Linked DNA regions of Homo sapiens. The protein of the gene in region 1 interacts with the protein of each later gene in a pairwise test. Each region holds a gene or a part of one and is shown on either strand. Other genes may lie near its edges. The genes, in order: RAP2B, CAMK2B and PDE6D.

What was found.
Region 2: the proteins of RAP2B (region 1) and CAMK2B interact in binary tests that used the Homo sapiens proteins (3 or more experiments, as listed by UniProt).
Region 3: the proteins of RAP2B (region 1) and PDE6D interact in a two-hybrid assay, tested with the Homo sapiens proteins (one study listed by BioGRID).

Annotation. Positions count from the first base shown.
Region 1 is NC_000003.12:153,157,251-153,165,225, forward strand, and holds the start of RAP2B (ras-related protein Rap-2b), read left to right. Parts: upstream 1-4,975; 5' UTR 4,976-5,443; coding exon 5,444-5,995; 3' UTR 5,996-7,975. UniProt on the Homo sapiens protein: Small GTP-binding protein which cycles between a GDP-bound inactive and a GTP-bound active form. Involved in EGFR and CHRM3 signaling pathways through stimulation of PLCE1.
Region 2 is NC_000007.14:44,224,480-44,231,647, forward strand, and holds part of CAMK2B (calcium/calmodulin-dependent protein kinase type II subunit beta), read right to left. Parts: intron 6,576-7,168; coding exon 6,527-6,575; intron 5,023-6,526; coding exon 4,909-5,022; intron 4,446-4,908; coding exon 4,317-4,445; intron 2,166-4,316; coding exon 2,037-2,165; intron 1,413-2,036; coding exon of another isoform or gene 1,284-1,412; intron 835-1,283; coding exon of another isoform or gene 737-834; exon of another isoform or gene 706-736; intron 1-705. UniProt on the Homo sapiens protein: Calcium/calmodulin-dependent protein kinase that functions autonomously after Ca(2+)/calmodulin-binding and autophosphorylation, and is involved in dendritic spine and synapse formation, neuronal plasticity and regulation of sarcoplasmic reticulum Ca(2+) transport in skeletal muscle.
Region 3 is NC_000002.12:231,731,794-231,736,311, reverse strand, and holds the end of PDE6D (retinal rod rhodopsin-sensitive cGMP 3',5'-cyclic phosphodiesterase subunit delta), read left to right. Parts: intron 1-3,278; coding exon 3,279-3,360; 3' UTR 3,361-3,879; downstream 3,880-4,518. UniProt on the Homo sapiens protein: Promotes the release of prenylated target proteins from cellular membranes. Modulates the activity of prenylated or palmitoylated Ras family members by regulating their subcellular location.

The DNA.
Region 1 (7,975 bases):
AAAAGGACCATTGATAAAGTAAAATATCCTAAGCCTACTAGTGGATATGTGGTCATGTTATAATATATTCAGTTACTTAACACATATTGAGAACACAGTAAGGCACAGTTATTCTCACACTTATACCTCCACTTTATTTATTTTTTTGAGATGGAGTCTCACTCTGTCACCCAGGCTGGAGTGCAGTGGCACAATCTCTGCTCACTGCAACCTCTGCCTCCCAGGTTCGAGTGATTCTCCTGCCTCAGCCCCCCCAAGTAGCTGGGACCACAAGCATGTGCCACCACACCCAGCCAATTTTTGTATTTTTAGTAGAGATGGGGTTTTGCCGTTTTGGCCAGGCTGGACTCAAACTCCTGACCTCGTGATCTGCCCGCCTCGGCCTCCCAAAGTGCTGGGATTACAGGTGTGAGCCATTGCGCCTGGCCTACTTCAGCTTTCAAATAATGATATATGGTCACTATCAACTTACCTTTGATGCTTTCAAAATTAGAATTTGTTCAGAATTTTTTGTTTACCTATAGGTGACACTAACTAAAACTATGAACATTATGAAACAAACCTCCACTTACCTAGTACAAATGAAAAGAACAAGCGGGTAGTTATTTTCTTGAGGACGTAAAACAGTCACATTCTAAGAAATCTAATTCTTTCAAGACCCAACCTGTGTATCTTGGAAGGAGGTCACTCTGTGAGCAAAGGTTAGGAATGGGACCCCTGTTTATGCAAAGTATCAAAGTTAAGCTGTCTCTTCCTGATAGCTTTTATGTTAGATTGTTTTTCAAAAATGCCTTTCCACATAATCTGAAAATGTCTTCTTCAGACAAAAGCTTTATCCATTGGATGCTTTGGTATCTTTCCTCAAGATAGCACTGATTTAGTGTTTTCACCCCAATAAATGAAGACTTTGATCACTCCAGCATCTTTGTGACTCAGGGAGACAGACTGACACATTAGTATACATTTTTCTGTGGATCGAAAACATGTTATGTCTTATCAAGGATTGATATGATCTTCTAACACAAATAGAGTTTGGAAAAGGATAAAATACCATTCACACATTCATTAATAAATATTTGAGGGCTTTCTACGGTACTAAGTGCTGTGAAGGACAAAGGTGGCTCTAAAGATAAACTAGACATGGACCTTGCCCTTGAGTATTTCACATGGTGCTTAAGGTGACCAGACTTAGTTATGGAAATGTAATAATTATAGTACAGGATAGATAATGTTTCACGCTGTGAGTGGGGGTAAAAATATTCCTAACAAATTTTACATGAAGAAATGATCAACCCTAAAAATTTGTACACTGGGCCGGGCACAGTGGCTCATGCCTCTAATCCCAGTACTTTGGGAGGCTGATGTGGGCAGATCACCTGAGATCAGGAGTTCGAGACCAGCCTGGCCAACATGATGAAACCCTGTCTCTACTAAAAATACAAAAATTAGTTAGGCGTGGTGGCACGCCCCTGTAATCCCAGTTACTCAGGAGGCTGAGGCTGGAGAATCACTTGAACCTGGGAGGCAGAGGTTGCAGTGAGCTGAGATCGTGCCATTGCACTCCAGCCTGGGCGACAGAGCAAGACACTGTCTCAAAAAAAAAAAAAAATTGTACATTTTTCATTGCTTCATTTGAAATCCCAAAGGTCCAATATAAATCTTTCTGTGGAAGACCATCTGAATGTAATAAAAATTGCTATTGAAGAATCCCTAATAAAAAGTATTCAAATTGTGGCATCTTTCTGGTACTGAGGAGGCCATAAAGGTTCAGTAATACCCATCCACATGGCTACCTAGAGTCTTAGGAATGGTCATTTCTCAAGGGACTGTCAGGCTGTCTGGGTCTGAGCAGTAATTTGATGCACGTATGGGGTGCTGCAGCTTTAGAAACATGTTTCCGTCTATTATCTGTTAATTATTATCCCTCTGGACAGCCTGGCACATGGTAAGGGCAGCTAAGACAGCAGGGTCCTAATTCTGCTCAGCTCTCTCTGCTGTAAAATGATTGATTTGGTGACCGGATTTTCTCCAAGTTTCCTTGTGTAGGTAGGTGCGTAGGGCAAATTATATTATCACCATTTTATAGAAAGGGAAACTAAGGTTAGGAGAGCTTAAGTGACTCGCCTAAGGCCTCTGATAATAACTGATATCCAATACTTGAGATTAGACTTCAGGCCCAGAAGGACAAAGCATCTGCTTCTATATCACACTCAGAACCACACCTAATATTTGTGGTTAAGAGTACCAATAGAGGCCCACATAGCATTAACCTAAGTATTTAAGTCATAAATCAAGATAACAAACTGTTAAACAAAATATGATCTGTCCTCCCACCTTGACAAATACCTCCTACACGGAGCTGGATGGCCAGTTGTGAACTATGAATTCCTGGACTTCTCTAAGGGCCAGGCTGGAAGGTGTCATGGAGGATAAAGCTGATCGCGAATGATCCCTCTTCCTGCATTACGAGGGGCCCAAAGCACCTGGGAGTGCACACCTTAGCCCACAGGTCCAGGTACTGTCCACACCCCAAAGAAGAGCTATTTCTTGGACACAGGAGTGAGTTCAGAGTCCCGACCAGATCCTGAAAGTGAACTTGGCACCATTTGGGCAGAGCAGTCCAGAGTTCTGACTACATGGAGCGTATGTAGTCTAGAAGAGGGTCAGGCTCCAGCTGGGCCATCAGCCTGACCGGAAGAGGGGCACTGCCAGAGGAGAGCCAGAGGGTGGCTGTGGGCGGAGGTCCCTCTTGGGTTTAAGAGCCAGTCTGATCACACAGCCTCTAAAATCACCCTAAGAAAGAATAACATACCGGAACATTCATGTGACGGGTAAGTATGGTCCAGTGGTTATGAGACTAGGCTCTGCAGGCAAATCCCTGGGTTGGAATCTTAGGTTGGCCACTTTCTAGTTGTGGCATCGCAGGCAAATTATTGATCATCTCACAGCCTCAGTTTCCTCATCTTTAAAATGGGTAAATAATCATTATTATGAGGAGTGGCAGTATATGTAAAACGCTTGGTGGACATTACACATTGGGTGGATGTTGACAGGGTTCTCTCCAGCTTAGGCGAGTTTGCCTCTGAGAGGTTTTTCTGGAGAATTATATAAGCTTCATAACATCCAAGCACTCTGACAGTCAAGGTGAAAGTCTCCTCTCTCTACTAAATTGGGGTGAGGCGCGGGTGTGGGCACCACCCACCCCACCCAAGGCATCAGGGGCAGCCCACGTCCCGCCCGGTTCTGTGCCCAAGGACTTCACGCTGCAGACGTGCACGGAAGCTGCTTTGGCCAGGGGTTTGGAGGTTAACTAGCAAACGCAGCGTGAGTCACGGCGGCACTAGGAACTGAAACCGTGTTAGCCATGCCCAGGTTTACCCTCCGATGCGGACGGTGAAACCAGGGAGCAGTGACATCAGGACGGGGAGCCAGCGCTGACGCAGCTCCACCGCCTCCCTCCCCATCCCGCACCCGCCGCCGCCGAGCTCAGCCTGCAGACAGGTCTTGACATCCCTCCTCAGCGAGGAGCGAGGGAGTCGGAACAAGTCGGGGCATCTCCCTTGCACCTCCCGGGAGCGCCAGCCCAGCCAAGTCTAGCGATTGCCCGGCCCGCCAGCGAAGACGCTTCCTCTGAAGCAAGCTTGGACACTCCCCTACCCCTCCGGGTGAAACGAATTCCAAGTGGCCCATTTCGGCTCCTCGCCCCCTCCCACTCCCTGCAAAAAAACTTGGCAACTCTGCGGTTTCTTGCGGACCAAAACCTGTAATTAGCCCTTTGTGCTCCCTTTAAGGGGCAGTCGTGACTGGAAACCGAGGAGTCAGACCCTCTCGAAAACACCAACAAAGAACTATATTTAGTTCTGAGCTCTCAGCCTAAATGCCTCTTATTTTTTCACTTTTACTTCAAAACGCCAGGGTTGGGGAAGTGGGAGGCAGAGGGTGGGGGAGCAACGGAGAAAGAACAGCTGTGCCTCCGCCTCTCCGCTCAATCTCTATAAATAACCAATCGCGAGCGGAGGCTACTTTTTAGCCAATGAAGCGCCCCAAACTGATAAAGCCTTGGCGGCAGCCAATGAACAACACTTAGGGGTGTCAGACTCGCGCCCCGAGACCAATGAGTGCAGAGTCTGGGAGAGGTAATTTGAGCTAGAGTGTGGGTGTGTGGTGCAAAAGCTTCCTACTTCCAAGCCCAAAAACCTGCTCTGCGACTGAGCATGCCCTGAACTAACTGCGGGCGCCCTGAGACTTCTGGATTGGGATGTAATCCGGTCTCCGGGTTTTGACCGCACTCGAGCGGGGAGGTGGGTACGACCCGCGGGACCCTGCCCCGAGAGAGCTGCAGGTACCAGAAGCTACCCCTTTCCTAGTCGGAACAGTATCTCAGACTTGGAGTACCTCCTGTTTTCTTTGTGCAAGGCTGCAGTGCACAGAGTCGGTCAGAGAAGACAGAGTAGCGTTTCTGTGGCGAACGGTTTAGAAAAATCTATGGGGCAGGTTTGCTCCGCCGGCTGCTCGTGCATTCCACGGCACCCACAGGACTTCGGGTTTCCGGCCCCCAGACCCACGCCCGCCCGGGGCTGAGTGAATGGCGTCCTTGGGCCTTTGATAACGGGAGTTGGCAAGACCACAGCCTACTCCATCCCTGAGGCGGCCCGCCGCGCCCACGTGCTTCTCGCAGAGCCGCCGCCCTTGTCCACCACTCCCACAGCTGTAAAATAAAGCGGCCTGCATGCTTCCTACAGCGCTTTCCTCGCTCCCATATACGCACACACACCCCATCTTCCAGCCAGTTCCTAACTCGCGCCACTCCCCAAATCGGACTCAAATCCGGAGCCCCGCCCACTGCCCCGCCCCCTCCCGGCCCCGCGGAAAACCAGGAGCGGCCGCTTGGGCAAGGCGCGGCCGGAACGCACTGGGCATGCTCGCCGGGGAGGGGCGGGCCGGGCTGCGCGCGGCGAGTAGGAAGCCCTCGCCCAGTAGAGGCTGTGGGAGAGAGCGCGATGGGCCGCGGCGGTGGGCGCACGTTCCGCGGGGACTCATGCCACGCGCGTCCCGGCCCGACGCGCAATTAGCAGCCACCTCCGCAGCCCGCCGCCACCGCCTCCCTGCCCTCCCGGGCTGCCGCAGCTAGGAGCTCCAGCCGTCGCCTCGCGCAGGCTGCGGGCATTGTCCTCTCGGTTCGCCGCCCGGGCTGCTGCTGCCGCCGCGGACTGCTGCGGGGCCCGGACCCGCACCCCAGGGATACGCTGCCGCCGCCGCCGGCCGGCCCGGCGCCCGGCCTCCGTTCGGTGGTTTCCGCCCTGCGTTCTCTGGGTTGCTCTCTCCTGGGTTTTTCCTGCGTAGCTGAGGAAGGGGAAGAGAAGTCCAGCCGCCAAGCCCAGCCTTCCCCGGCGCGCAGCCCCGACGGGGCCGCGGCAGGCGCGGCGAGAGCGCTGACGGAGCCATGAGAGAGTACAAAGTGGTGGTGCTGGGCTCGGGCGGCGTGGGCAAGTCCGCGCTCACCGTGCAGTTCGTGACGGGCTCCTTCATCGAGAAGTACGACCCGACCATCGAAGACTTTTACCGCAAGGAGATTGAGGTGGACTCGTCGCCGTCGGTGCTGGAGATCCTGGATACGGCGGGCACCGAGCAGTTCGCGTCCATGCGGGACCTGTACATCAAGAACGGCCAGGGCTTCATCCTGGTCTACAGCCTCGTCAACCAGCAGAGCTTCCAGGACATCAAGCCCATGCGGGACCAGATCATCCGCGTGAAGCGGTACGAGCGCGTGCCCATGATCCTGGTGGGCAACAAGGTGGACCTGGAGGGTGAGCGCGAGGTCTCGTACGGGGAGGGCAAGGCCCTGGCTGAGGAGTGGAGCTGCCCCTTCATGGAGACGTCGGCCAAAAACAAAGCCTCGGTAGACGAGCTATTTGCCGAGATCGTGCGGCAGATGAACTACGCGGCGCAGCCCAACGGCGATGAGGGCTGCTGCTCGGCCTGCGTGATCCTCTGAGGCGGCCACCGCGCGCCGGCCGCGCTCTGCGCACAAAAGCCAAACGCATCCGACTCTCTAAATGTGATTTATTTCTTGCTTTGAGATTGGAGACCACTTTGCATTGGCCAGGGTGTCTTGGGAGCCCGGCTGGCCTCCGCGGCCGGCGTCCCCTGCCTCCACCCTGTGCCCGAGGGGGTGTCCGGTCCTGCCCATCCGATACTCTGGTGGAAATGTGGCTCTTTGCAGCATGTACGTTTCTCCCTGATTTTGGTTGATGCATATTTCCCCGTTTAAGTAGCCGTTAGGGCGCAGTATCGGCAGCTTGACACCCACCAAGCAAAAGTTTCAGCCTGGAAAAAAAATGGGGGGGAAGGGTGGATGAAAAGGAGGGAGAGAAGGTGGAAATGGTTTTTTTTTTTTTTTTTCTATTTTCTTTCTTTTTTTTTTTTTTTTTTTTTGGTCAACAGCCGTTTTTCTAGTTCCAAGTTTTAAATACATGGAAGGAAGTCCGGGAGAACCATATGAAGGAGCAGGAGGAGAGGAAGAAACTTTTTTTCCTTCTTTTCCAGGAGTAGCTGGAAATTAAGATCGGGTTCCTTTTCTGCCAGCTTGGAAGGGCAACCCCATGACTGATTGCGATTCTGAGGATGTCTATGCAAAGTTGGATTCTTGTTACAGTGTATCCAATCTGAAGTATTGCACATCTGAACTGGGACTGTTAACACTGATGCCAATACAGTGTGGGGTGCCAGAAAGTGTCTGCTGATATTTGTGGAAAAAAAATCTATTTTGTTTACCTACTGTATCAAAGGGGAGTCTGGGGGAGAATGGTAGTATTTTTTTTTTTTATCAGCTGTGAAAAAAATGTTACAGATCTGCACATTTTCGTGTGTACTATGGTGTGTGTGTGTATGTGTGTGGTGTGTGTGTGTTTTAAGTTTAGCCTTTTGTTTTTGTTTTTTGGTTGGCAGTAACCGATTTTAATGACTAGCTTTTAAAAATACAGTACAAAGACTTTGTAAATGTGATTCAGGGCCCCCAGCACCCCTGTGTCTGCAGAGTGCCTTCAAAACTCAGCTGTTCCAGCCGGTGCCAACCTGTGAACTTCCCACCATATCCCAGAATCTGCTATTCCCCAAACCACTTCCCAGTTTCCTTTCAGTAATCTTTCTGAAGGAGCCAGGACAATAGGGCCTGTTGTTTAGTGAATTTCTTTATTATTTTCAGCCTTTAAAATGTAATTTCCATCTCTTGCAATGAATTTGTTTCCCTTTTTTTTGCTTCATTTTGTTTAAATTTTCAGGTATTTAGCTCCCCTTTCATATTATTTTTAAATTTTTTAATTACCTGTTGTAGGGTGTTCCTCCAGAAGCAAAGAGCAAAATTTTACTGTTGTGATGTACCAATTCTAACTAATTGTAATTTTTAATTTCATGCGTTTAATCATTGTCTCTTCATTTTAAGACTTTTAATACAAATGTCATTTTTAAAGAAACAAACCCAAAACTATTGTTTGTGTTTCTGTGTTTCATATTCAGTGATTTAATACAGTATCATGGCTGAGGTGGATGGGGCAGGTGCATGATACTCTTCAGAGCTATTTGTGAAATTTTAAAGACAGAAGTGTCTCAGTGACAAGTTGGATGACACTACTCCCAACTTTTTAAATTTGGAGAAAACCATCAAGGTCGAGGAAGCCCTGGGTATGGCCATTACCATCTGATTAGAAGATGAACAGGTATTTTGAATCTGATCTGACATGGAACAGTTTACCTCATTGTAGGTAGGGAACAAGAGAACCCATCTATTAAAATTGCCTTAGATCTGGGAAAGTAACCATCCTTCTGGCAAAGTAGGATGGCACTTTTAAGTTTTTCTTCCTTTTTTCCCTCTGTTTATATTGCACATCAAGTCAAAAACATGTTTGGGAAAGATGGTTTTCAATTCTGAAGTTATACCTAGTGATGTTTTTTGCAGTACATTTGAATGGATTGTAGA
Region 2 (7,168 bases), on another chromosome or scaffold:
GGTCTGCACGAGCCAAGAGCCTCTGCAAGTCAGGCCTTCCAGGTGCCCTGACATGAACAGGAGCCTTTGCATTGCCTGTGGCTCTCTTGGGGTGAGGCAACAGGTCCAGGCAGGCCTAATGCGTCCAGGTGGGGTCAGAGCAGGTTCTCATCCTGGCCTGGACTCCTGGGACCCCAGGCTGGCCCCAAGCCCATCTCTCAGAGCCAGAGGTGGCTGCGGGAGGGAGGGCAGCTGCCCAGGGATCAGGCTGGATTGTGTATAATCCGCGATTAGAGAGCGTGGGTGGGGAGGAGACGGGGCCTGAGGCGGGCCGTGGGCACCTGCCCTATTTACACAGCTGGTGGGTGCCTTCTGGAGAAAGGAGGTGGAAAGGAGGCAGAAAGCTGGCCACCTGCCACCTGGGCCCAGGTGCCCCCAGGGCAGTACCCAGACTCTTCCTTTCCCTGAGTTCCGGAACATCTCACCCACCCCTTTCCCAGCCCTGCCCAGCCCCTCCCAGGAGGGCCACACGAATCTCCATCCTGCCCTGCTCACAGCTCCTTCCTGCAGCCCCCTCCTCCCCAGCCAAGCTCAGGGAAGACTCTGGAAGGGCAGGTCTGTGCTGTGGCCCCTGAAGGTGAGCCTGGACACCGAGCCCCGAGCTGGCCACTCCACACCCACCCTGGGCCCTGTCCTCAGAGGACTCACCCCAGATACTGCACAGACCTTGAGGGCAGGCTGCAGTCCTGGGCTGGGGTCATGCCAACCTGATGGGGTGACCTTCCAGGCAGGCTCCTTTGGGCACACCCCTCCACTTCTGCAAGGGCAGCAAGCCCCTTAAAATCAGATGAGCTGCTGTAGAAGTGGCAGGTGTCGGGGGTTCTGACCACTCCCAGAGGCTCTGCGGTGCACCCACCCCAGCTGCACGGCGGCCCCTCCCCATGCCTCCCTCCTTGAGTTCTGGTCGCCCAGGCACCCCGACCCTATCAGCATCAAGAACCTGGCCTCTCCCCTCAGCTGCTTGCCTCTGATCCCCTCAGTCAACCCCTGCTGGGGGTCCTCAGCCGACCACAGAAGCTCTGGGGGTGAGTACCCCTCCAGGGGCTGCCCCCTGCTCTCTCGGGCACCCAGGGTGGATCCAGTGCCCCTTTGAGCCTGCAGCCTGCATCCCCCTCCTCGAGCCGCTGCTCCTGTGGGTTCACTCTCCCCACACCCTTCTGCCCTGGCCGCCTGCAGCAGCCCCCAGGCCCAGCCTGCAGAGGGGACGGTGGCAAGCAGACCCCACCTGTCCCTCAAGTACTTACCTAGCCACTGCCCTGCCATGCCGAGCCCGTGGCCCAGCAGCCTCTTCTCTAAGAGTATCTCCACACCACCCCCAGTCTGGTGTCTCCCCACAGGTGGGGGTGGCAGCAGCCCTGGGATGTCATCCATCCCTGTAAGTGATACTGCGGGTAGTCGGCAGACAGACCGGGAGGTGGCCCAGCCTGGCTCCTCCCTGGCCGGGGAGGCTGCCCAGCCTGTGCTTCCTGTCCCGCCCGCTCTGTTTCAGCCTGGCCCCAGCTGCCCCCCAGATCCGCGCCTCCCGATCCCCACCTGCTCCCTGCTGTCTGGACTTGGACAGCTCTAATGCTAGAGCGTCTCAGGCCGGGACTGACACTTTTCTGTCCCGGCCCAGCAGGTCCACCTTGACCCAAGCCAGCAGCTCCTGGCGTGCTAGCCCTTGCCACACGCGCAGACCCTTTGCCACCCATTCCCCTCCCATCAGGAGAAAGCTGTGGACCTCAGGGTTGCGAATGCTGGGGTCGGCAACAAACCTGCTCTTTCGGACGCTCTTCCTATACACATATGTCATACACACTTCATAACCATAACCTCCATTTTCTGAGACCCAGTGGCACCTTCATGTGCTTCAAAGCAATTCCCTGGGACCCAGCAGAGGGATCCTGTGCCCCGCCCTCCTCCGCAAGAATGGCCCTTCCCAGAGCACCACTGCCAGGCTCGCACGCCCCGAGCCCCTCCGGGCAGCCGCTGCCACGGCCACTCAAGGTGCTACTTACATGGGGTGGGCAGGGGGCCAGGGATAGTCGGAGATGGGCAGGGCGGGGGCCCCACTGGCGAGGGGCCCTCGGCTTCTGGGGTCCCTGAGCCCCTCCTCACAGAGTTCAGGATGTCAGAGATCCTGGGGGCTGGGGCGGAACAGACGAGACGTGAACACAAGGCAGGCACGGGGGGCACGCAGGAGAGAAACCATGGGCAGACAGCCAAGCCAGAGATTGAGGGGCACAGAGGCAGATGTGGGGGATGGGGCACAAGGGGACAGAGGGGAGGAAGGGAGAATGGGGGGGTGTGGGGGGAAGATGGTGGACCTGGGCCGACAGAGGGGATATAGGGGAAAGAAGGGGATGTGGGGGATGGAGGGGAGCTTGGGGGACAGAGAGGGAAACGGGAAATGGAGGAGACGTGGGAGACAGAAGGGAACGTGGGGGACAGAGGGGCATGTGGGGGGACAAAGTGGGGGTGTAGGGGATGGGGGGCATGAGGGGACCAAGGTGGGTGTGGGGGACAGAGGGGGGTGTGGAAGACAGAGGGGGTGTGGGGGACAGAAGGGGTCATGGGGGATGGGGGTGCGTGAGGGGACCAAGGTGGATGTGGGGGACAGAGGGAGTGTGGAGGACAGAGGGGGATGTGGGGGACAGAGAGAGGTGCAGGGGACAGAGGAGGGTGCAGGGGACAGAGGAGGGTGCAGGGGACAGAGGGGGATGTGGGGGACAGAGGGGAAGTGGAAGACAGAGGGGGTGTGGGGGACAGAAGGCGGTGTGGGGAACAGAGGGGGAGGTGGGGGACAGAGGAGAGTATGGGGGACAGAGGGGGTGTGGGGGACAGAAGGGGGTGTGGAAGACAGGAGGTGTGGGGGACAGACGGAGTGTGGGGGACAGAGGGAGAGTCTGGGGGACAGAGGGGGTGTGGGGGACAGGAGGGGGTGTGGAAGACAGAGGAAGTGTGGGGGACAGAAGGGGGTATGGGGGGCAGGGGGTGGAGGACAGAGGAGGGTGTGGGGGACAGAGGGGGATATGGGGGACAGAGGGAGTGTAGGGGACAGAGGAGGGTCTGGGGGGCAGAGGGAGAGTGTGGGGGACAGGGGGTGTGGGGGACAGAGGGAGTGTGGGGGACAGAGGAGGGTCTGGAGGACAGAGGGAGAGTGTAGGGAACAGAGGGGGTGTGGGGGACAGAAAAGGGCGTGAAGGGACCAAGGTGGGTGTGGGGGACAGAGGGGTATATGGGGGACAGAGGAGGGTGTGGGGGACAGAGGGAGAGTCTGGGGGACAGAGGAGGGTGTGGGGGACAGAGGGAGAATGTGAGGGGCAGAGCAGAGTTTGGGGAGGAAAATGGAAATGAGGGAAAGAGGGGAATTTGGGGGACAGAGGGGGATGTAGGGATAGAGCGTGGACTTAGGGGGACGTGGAGAGGTTGTAGGCTGACCGAGGGGGATATGGGGGGACGGAGGGAGACAGGGGGACAGAGGGTGCTGCTGCGGACAGCGTGGTGCGTGGAGAGGAGGCTGCAGGAGTGAAGGGCAGATGCTCTGGCTGTCGGGTGGCGTGGGCTGAAGCTGCTGGGGGCAGAGGGCACCCTCCAGGGAGAGGCTGCTGGCCAGCAAGAAGCTGTCAGGTAAGTGGCCCTTGAGGAACGCTGGACGGGGTTACAGGGAGAGGAGGGAGTCACGGGCGTTACAGAGGAGGCCTGGCCTGGCCCCATGAGGACAGCCCAGGTCAGCAGAGGCCAGGCTTATGATTCTCCGTACTATCCCCTTGTTGGTGAGCTCCAGAGACCCTGGTCGGGGTTCCAGTTTTGGCACCTTCCTCAGCCTCCTAGACTGAGGGAGGGTGCTCAGGGGTTGGGGCCACATCAGGAACCAGGGTGGCCCTGAGTGCAGCTCCTGGGCACCATGGGCAGGGCCCCTGGGTGGGTGTGAAGTCTGTGGGGCTGGGACAGTGATCAGCAGAGAGGGCCTAGGGGCATGGGGGGCCTCGGAGGGGCCAGGGCTGCCCAGGGCTGGGACAGACATTTTGGAGAGGGGCCTGGGGCTGGACAGCGAGCGGGGAGTGGCAGTGGGAGCAGGAGCCGTGGAGGGGTCTGGGCCCCTTAGGGAGAAGCCAGGAGCTGCCCTGCTGGTTAGCATGGGAGCCCACAGGAAGCCCCGCCAGGGCAGGACTCCAGGCTGCGGCGCCGGGGCAGGGTAGCTGGGCCGTGCATGCAGGTGGGAAGCTGCTGAGCGCCGGCCATTCGCAGGGAGCTGTCCGGCAGCAGAGGCGGCAGGCCTGGGGGCCACTACTTACACGGGGAGGACAGGGGGCCTAGGAGAGCCGGAGACAGGCAGGGCGGGGGCCCCGCTGAGAGGGGGCCCTCGGCTTCTGGGGTTCCTGAACCCCTTCTCACAGAGTTCAGGATGTCAGAGATCCTGGGGGCTGGGGTGGAACAGATGAGACGTGAACATGAGGCAGACAGACACACGAGGCGGCGGCAAGGCGGAGGAGGCCAGTGGGAGGGGTCCCGTGTTCTAGACCCCTTGGGCCCTGGGATCAGGCCCTGAATCAGAGCCTGCCTCAATAGCAGGGAGCCCCCCCGCCCGCAAGCTGAGGTGGAGTGAGGCCTGCACCGACCCTGAAGACTGGAATTGAGGCCCGAGCCTCCAGGGCCTCCCATCCTGCCCAGTGGCCTTGAGCAGGAAAGTGGTCCAGGGCCCTCCTCACAAAGAGGTGGGGCTCGATGGGCTGGGGCCACCCTGGAAAGCCCCAGTGAGGGATTGTGGGGTGATGAGGCTGGAGCCAGGGTCCACGCTCAGCCTGCCCTCGGCTCTGGAGTGGCCCCTCTAGGGGGTTGCCAGCCCTCCAACATGACCCCCACAGCAGCAGGACCCAGGCTACTTACATGGGGCTGGCAGGGGGCTAAAGGGAGCCGGAGATGGGCAGGGCAGGGGCCCCTCGGCTTCTGGGGCTCCCGAGCCCCTCCTCACTGAGCTCAGGATGTCGGGGACCCTGGGGGCTGAGGCGGAACAGGTGAGGCAGGCAGGTGGGTGGTGCGCCCGCAGGAAAAGAAGGCAACTGGAGAAGGACAGGGGGAGGCCAGGAGGGAGGGAGGGGGTGACAGCTGGATACCTGGGGCTCCTGGGGTGGAGGTGGGGTGGCCACCTGTGGGGGTCCTGGGCCTGTGGTGGCCGCAGCAGGTATGTGAAGGCTGAAGGAGCCAACACGGGACCGGTGCCAGAGCCAGAGCCAGCAGAGGCCAGGGCAGCACAGGCCAGTGCAGGCTGGCGCAGAGTCAGAGGCCACCCTGCCACCCTAGTGCTGTGACCACCCCTGGCCAGAGCCAGCAGAGGCCAGGCGCACGGAGAGGGAGTGACAGTCATCGTAGGGGCATGATGGCCACTGAGCCTGCCTGGACTCTGTACCAGCCTCAGGGCAGGCTGGCAAGGCTTCTTTCTGCACGGGGTGGGGTGGGGGGTGTCTGCCTCCACCTCGAGAGGCTGCTCGGGCTCAGATCTGAGCCACAGCTGCTGGCTTCTGGCTGTCTTCTCTTCTCCCCTGCAGGATCCAGGCTGGGCCCCCCTCCCAGGTCCCCTCCCTCACTGCTCAGCACCCCACTCGGCTGAGGGTGATGGAGAACCTCTGGACAGCCTTCATGCTGTTGCCTTTGGGGCCTGTTCCAGACTGCAGGGGAATCACACAAACACCCACTCTCCGGCATCCAGGGCCCAAAGTCCTGTGCTCATCTCTGCTCAGGGACAGTGTCATAGCTGGGTAGGCCGGGCAGGAGCAAGGCTATGCTTTGGACAGGTGAGAAGTTTTCTCCCCTAAACTGGCAGAGTGGCTGACCCTTTTTGGGCACCAGGGTAGCCCTGAGAACAGCATAAGGCTTATTAGGTGACCGTGTGAGCGATGAGGGTCAGGAGGCCCCATGTGGGTGGTCTGGAGGCGGCAGAATCCATGGAGCATGCCCCAGTGCCTGGTGCCCTGGGGGCCTCTTGGGGAACACACAAGACATTGGCCTGGGTGAGCAAGGGAGGGGGCCCTGGAATCTGTGGTGCAGAAACCCACCGCAGCAGGACACTCCTGGCTAAGCAAAGGCAAACACGGAAACACTCACCCAGCTGCCCGGCCACTTGGCAAGTGCATGCTGGACAGAAACGCAAGCTTAAGGAGCTTTAAGACAAGGACAGCATCTTGGAACAAATTCTACCCATGGGCCTGTTTCCCCGTGAGGGTCCTGGTGTGGAGAACCTGCCTCCATGCAAAGCCGTGGCTTCCTCACTTGGATGCGGTGACCGAGACTGCCCAGCTGTCGGTCATCTCTGCCATGCTTCTCCGCTCTGGGCAGGCCTGACACCCAGGCTTGGAGCAGGATTACAGCTACAGGGTCCCTGAGCCCCTCAACACATGCATAAACTAGGCGTCGCAGGAGAGTTGACCCTGCCCAAGTCCCACCCACCTCAAAGAGCAACCCAGCAATGCCAAGGCCGCTGGGGGGGCAAGGACTCAAGTGCAGGTACCTTTAGCGTCTTCATCCTCTATGGTGGTATTGGCACTGTCAGAAGACTCCTGAGGAAACACGGGAGGCAGCGGGTCAGGATGCGGCCAAGGATAGGTGGGACGTGGCTGAGGGCAGGTGGACAGGGCTGGGCCTGTGTCAGGACCAGCCCAGGCTCTGAAGCTGATCTCTGCCTCGGCTGCTTCCACGGGGCTTAAAGGCCAGGGGCTCAGGGGACATGCCCTCTGGCGGCTGCAGGGCCCCAGCTCTGTGGACCTCATGCGGCAGTGACCGGAGAAGACACCCAGTTCTGTGCTGGTCCCTGGGAGGGCGCCCCTCACCAGGGTGCATTCTCACGGCAGCCAGCACAGGCTGGCACGGAGTCCGAGGCCGGCCCTGCCACCCTAGTGCTGTGGCCACCCTGCATCCCCAACACATGAGGGCTCCACTTCTCCCAGCAAGATGAGCCTGGCAGAGAGACTGGTATGCTCAGCTGACTCTTTAACAAGAGAGGAAAATGGGCTTTTTGAAATTCCAAGACGTAAAACACAATGGGACTGGCTGGTTCCAATGAAGCAGCAGCCGGTGTCATCCAAAATACAGGGTGAGGCGTTCCCAGGAGCTCTGCAGATCCGCACAGGGCTCCAGGAACCTTGGCCTGGCC
Region 3 (4,518 bases), on another chromosome or scaffold:
CACAGATAATTGTGTAATATTGGATCATCTCTTTCAACAGTTCCTTTATGAAAGCCATATTGAATTTGTTAAAAATTGAGGTTATTGACTTTAAGGTTTTTTGTTTTTGTTTTGGGTTTTGTTTATTTTATTTTTTTAAAAAACAGGGTCTTGCCATGTTGCCCAGGCTGGACTCCAACTCCTGGGCTCAAGTGATCTTCCTAGCTCAGCCTCCTAAGTAGGTGAGACTACAGGCATGTGCCACCATGCCTGTCTCTACTTTTTAAGTTTTTTTTTTTTTTTTTGAGACAGAGTCTCGCCCTGTCACCCAGGCTGGAGTGCAGTGGCGTGATCTCAGCTCACTGCCAGCTCCGCCTCCCAGGTTCAAGCAACTCTCCTGTCTCAGCCTCCCAAGTAGCTGGGATTACAGGCATACACCACCACACCGGTTAATTTTTTTTTTGTATTTTTAGTAGAGACAGGGTTTCACCATATTGGTCAAGCTGGTCTCGAACTCCTAACCTCGGGTGATCCACCCGCCTCAACCTCCCAAAGTGCTGGGATTACAGGCATGAGCCACCGTGCCCAGCCCCTTTTTAAAGTTTTTAATAGTTTTTTTAACAGCCAGGTGTGGTGACACTTTCCTATAATCCTAGCTACTTGGGAAGCTGAGGCGGGAGGATTGCTTGAGTCCAAGAGTTTGAGACTAGCTTGGGCAACATAGATTTTGTAAGAGGCTGGGCGCAGTGGCTCACACCTGTAATCCCAGCACTTTGGGAAGCCAAGTCGGGTGGATCACGAGGTCAGGAAATCGAGACCATCTTGGCTAACACAGTGAAACCCCATCTCTACTAAAAATACAAAAAATCAGCTGGGCATGGCGGCACACGCTTGTAGTCCCAGCTACTCGGGAGGCTGAGGCAGGAGATCACTTGAATCTGGGTGCCGGAGGTTGCAGTGAGCCGAGATCACGCCTCTGCACTCCACCCTGGGTGACAGGGCGAGACTCCACCTCAAAAAAAAAAAAAAATTGTAATAGAATTTTTTAAAGTTTTAATAGTTTTAAAAGTAGATTTTTTTTTTTTTTTTTTGATATGGAGTCTCGCTCTGTTGCCCAGGCTGGAGTGCAGTGGCAAGATCTCGGCTCACTGCAAGCTCCACCTCCCAGGTTCCCATCTTTCTCCTGCCTCAGCCTTCCGAGTAGCTGGGACTACAGGCACCCGCCACCACGCCCAGCTAATTTTTCGTATTTTTAGTAGAGACGGGGTTTCACCATGTTAGCCAGGATGGTCTCGATCTCCTGACCTCGTGATCCGCCCGCCTCGGCCTCCCAAAGTGCTGGGATTACAGACGTGAGCCACCGTGCCTGGCCTAAAAGTAGATTTTTTAATTACAGTAGTAGCTATTTTTATATCTTATCAGCCAGTCAGATTCTGAGTACCTTATTTACCTGTTTTTTGGGGTTTTTTTTTTTGTTTTTTTTTTTGAGACGGAGTCTCGCTCTGTCGCCCAGGCTGGAGTGCAGTAGCATGATCCCAGCTCACTGCAACCTCCGCCTCCCAGGTTCACGCCATTCTCCTGCCTCAGCCTCCTGAGTAGCTGAGACTACAGGCACCCGCCACCACGCCCGGCTATTTTTTTTTTTTTATATTTTTAGTACAGACGGGGTTTCACCATGTTAGCCAGGATGGTCTCGATCTCCTGACCTCATGATCTGCCCGCCTCAGCCTCCCAAAGTGCTGGGATTACAGGCATGAGCCACCATGCCCGGCCTATTTACCTGTTTTATAATTAATTACCAGCAGAAATGTATCTGCTGGTTATTAATTACCCTGGGAAAGTACAGAGTAGTTTAGGAAAGCAGGGGTTTTTTTTTTTTAGATTTTATTAAACTTCATTTGACTTCTTCTTCACGAGGCGTGATTTTTTGTTGCTGTTTTTTTTTGAGACGGTCTCGCTCTGTCTCAAACCTATCATAAGATGAAAATATCATAAGTCAAAAATGCATTTAATATCCCCATAAATCCACTATAAAGTTGAAAGATCATAAGTTGATTCATTATAAGTAGGGAACCAACTATACTTAACTTTTTATTTTTTATTTTTTTTTATTTTTTTTGAGACAGAGTCTCGCTCTGTCGCGGAGGCTGGAGTGCAGTGGCGTGATCTCGGCTCACTGCAAGCTCCGCCTCCCGGGTTCCCACCATTCTCCTGCCTCAGCCTCCCGAGTAGCTGGGACTATAGGCGCCCGCCACCACGCCTGGCTAATTTTTTTGTATTTTTAGTAGAGACAGGGTTTCACCCTGTTTAGCCAGGATGGTCTCAATCTCCTGACCTTGTGATCCGCCCACCTCGGACTCCCAAAGTGCTGGGATTACAGGCATGAGCCACCGTGCCCGGCTACTTAACTTTTTAGAACCCCCAAAAACAGTTGCCCTAAACTCAGCTCAAGTGTGATTTGGTAAGGCCATGGTCTCTCCCATTTTACAAATGGGAGCACCGAGATACCCACCAAGAAAAATGAAATTCTTCCCTCACACCTCACAATACAGGTGCATCATTTAGTGTTCTGTAGTTGTAAGTCATAGAAACAGGCTCTGGCTAATACAAGAGCTGAAAGACTAAGGGGGAGAGCTGGGCGGCTTGGAAGATGCAGATGGGCAGGAATCCCTGGATGGCTTCCTCAAGGAGAAGCTACAGGAAGGATCTTGCTCAAGAGAAAGAGTCTGATTGGCCTAAGTTACATCCTCTGTTCACCCTTTTGCCAGGTGAGTGAGGGGCCACTCACTTGGCACATGGACTGGAGGAAGGGTGGTTCCCAAATGAAGAGCAAGGTGCTGTTACCCAAAGGCAGGAAAATAGATGTGGGCCAGGCCAAAGCCCACCTTTCGACTATTGTGAGTACTGTAGGGAAGGATACTGCCCCTGAGGTCTGCAGGCTTCTATATGTAAGCCAGCCAGAGGTGTCCATGAATGCAGTATCAGAAAGTCAGTCGGATCTATAAGCACCCTGTGTGCAGAGCACTCTACTAAGGGCTTTAGAGTGTACCAAGGAGTGGAGACATGCTCTCACTTCTGATTTGTGAGCTTGACAGGGATGAATGTAACCACATAAGTTAAATGTCATGTTAGACTTGTAGCCCCATATAGACAAGGATTTTAATGTCCCCAAGCTAAGACTCTGGGTGGGTGCATGTCCATTGGCCCAGGAATCCAGATGGAAACCACTTTGTGGAAATGAAATCTTGTGCCTAACATGCTCACTCTCTTTTGCCCTCTGTTTCTCTTCTTACTTACAGTGGGAACGTTATCATAGAAACAAAGTTTTTTGACGACGATCTTCTTGTAAGCACATCCAGAGTGAGACTTTTCTATGTTTGAAAGAAGAATGTGTGTACATTTCAAGAATTTGGGTTTTTTGGAGGGAGGAGGAAACTGTTTACTTTTTTCCTCCACACGTTTGATTTTTGACACATACACCCCTAATTCCCTCAACAGCAGAACCTACCTGCAGCCACCAGGGGACCAGCTCTGTGTAGGTAACCAGATGGCTCTTTTTCCCAAGCCACCATCTTCCAGCTGACCAGACTAAACTCCCAACCCCAGACCAGGGCAGGGGACAGGTCTCAAGTCCTTCCCAGCATACACACAGGGAACAAACACATACCACAAACCGGTAACTGTACCTGTCACCCTCCTTGTCTCCTCCTTGGGCCCTACAGGCTACACATCTACCTTTGGCCCCTGGTTTTGGAAAAATTCCGTGTTCCTGACCCATGTTTAGTTTTTTCCTACCATTTCTATTTCATACATTCTCATACATTTAACTTGTAAAATAGACTGTGATATTATTACATAATGTAATTAAAAATATGAATTAAAATATTCCTACAGTCTTTAGCATGGCACTGCTTTTATCTCTCCTTTTTCTGGAAAGTGAACCTGGCTGCATAATGGAAAGAAACCAAATATAAGATCACAACTGTATTTCACTCCAGGAATGGAACTGATAGATCTTGTTCCCTAGTGCCACAGTTACTGCTTTCCAAAATTGTGCAACATACTTGAACCAAACCCATGACCTTAACATTTGTCTTTTAGACACAATCTTTAATGGTTCTTTTCCACAACATACATGCACCCTTTGTTTGTTTATTATTGTTAATTTTTTCTATTTGTTTACAGTATTCATTTGTTCAAGAAGTTTCAAGAAAGGGCAATTCTAAGTTAGTAGAGTAGGGACTCTCATATTCCTAAATGAGACTAGAAGCTACAAAATGAAAAGATCTGCATGAACCTAACTGGAGAATGATGGGAAGGCGTCTGGGCTGGGAGGAGGCTGGGAGGCCTTTAAGACTGTCGTCATTGGAAGCCAGCGTGGGAGAGAAGGGATTACAACTGGCAGTGCTTTCAGGTCCGACATAAGAGAGAACACCAAAAAGTGTTCTTACCTCTGAGCTACTAGTAGCCTTCAGTGTCTTTTTTTGTTGTTTTGTTTTGAGACAGAGTCTCACTCTTGTTGCCCAGGTTGGAGTCCAA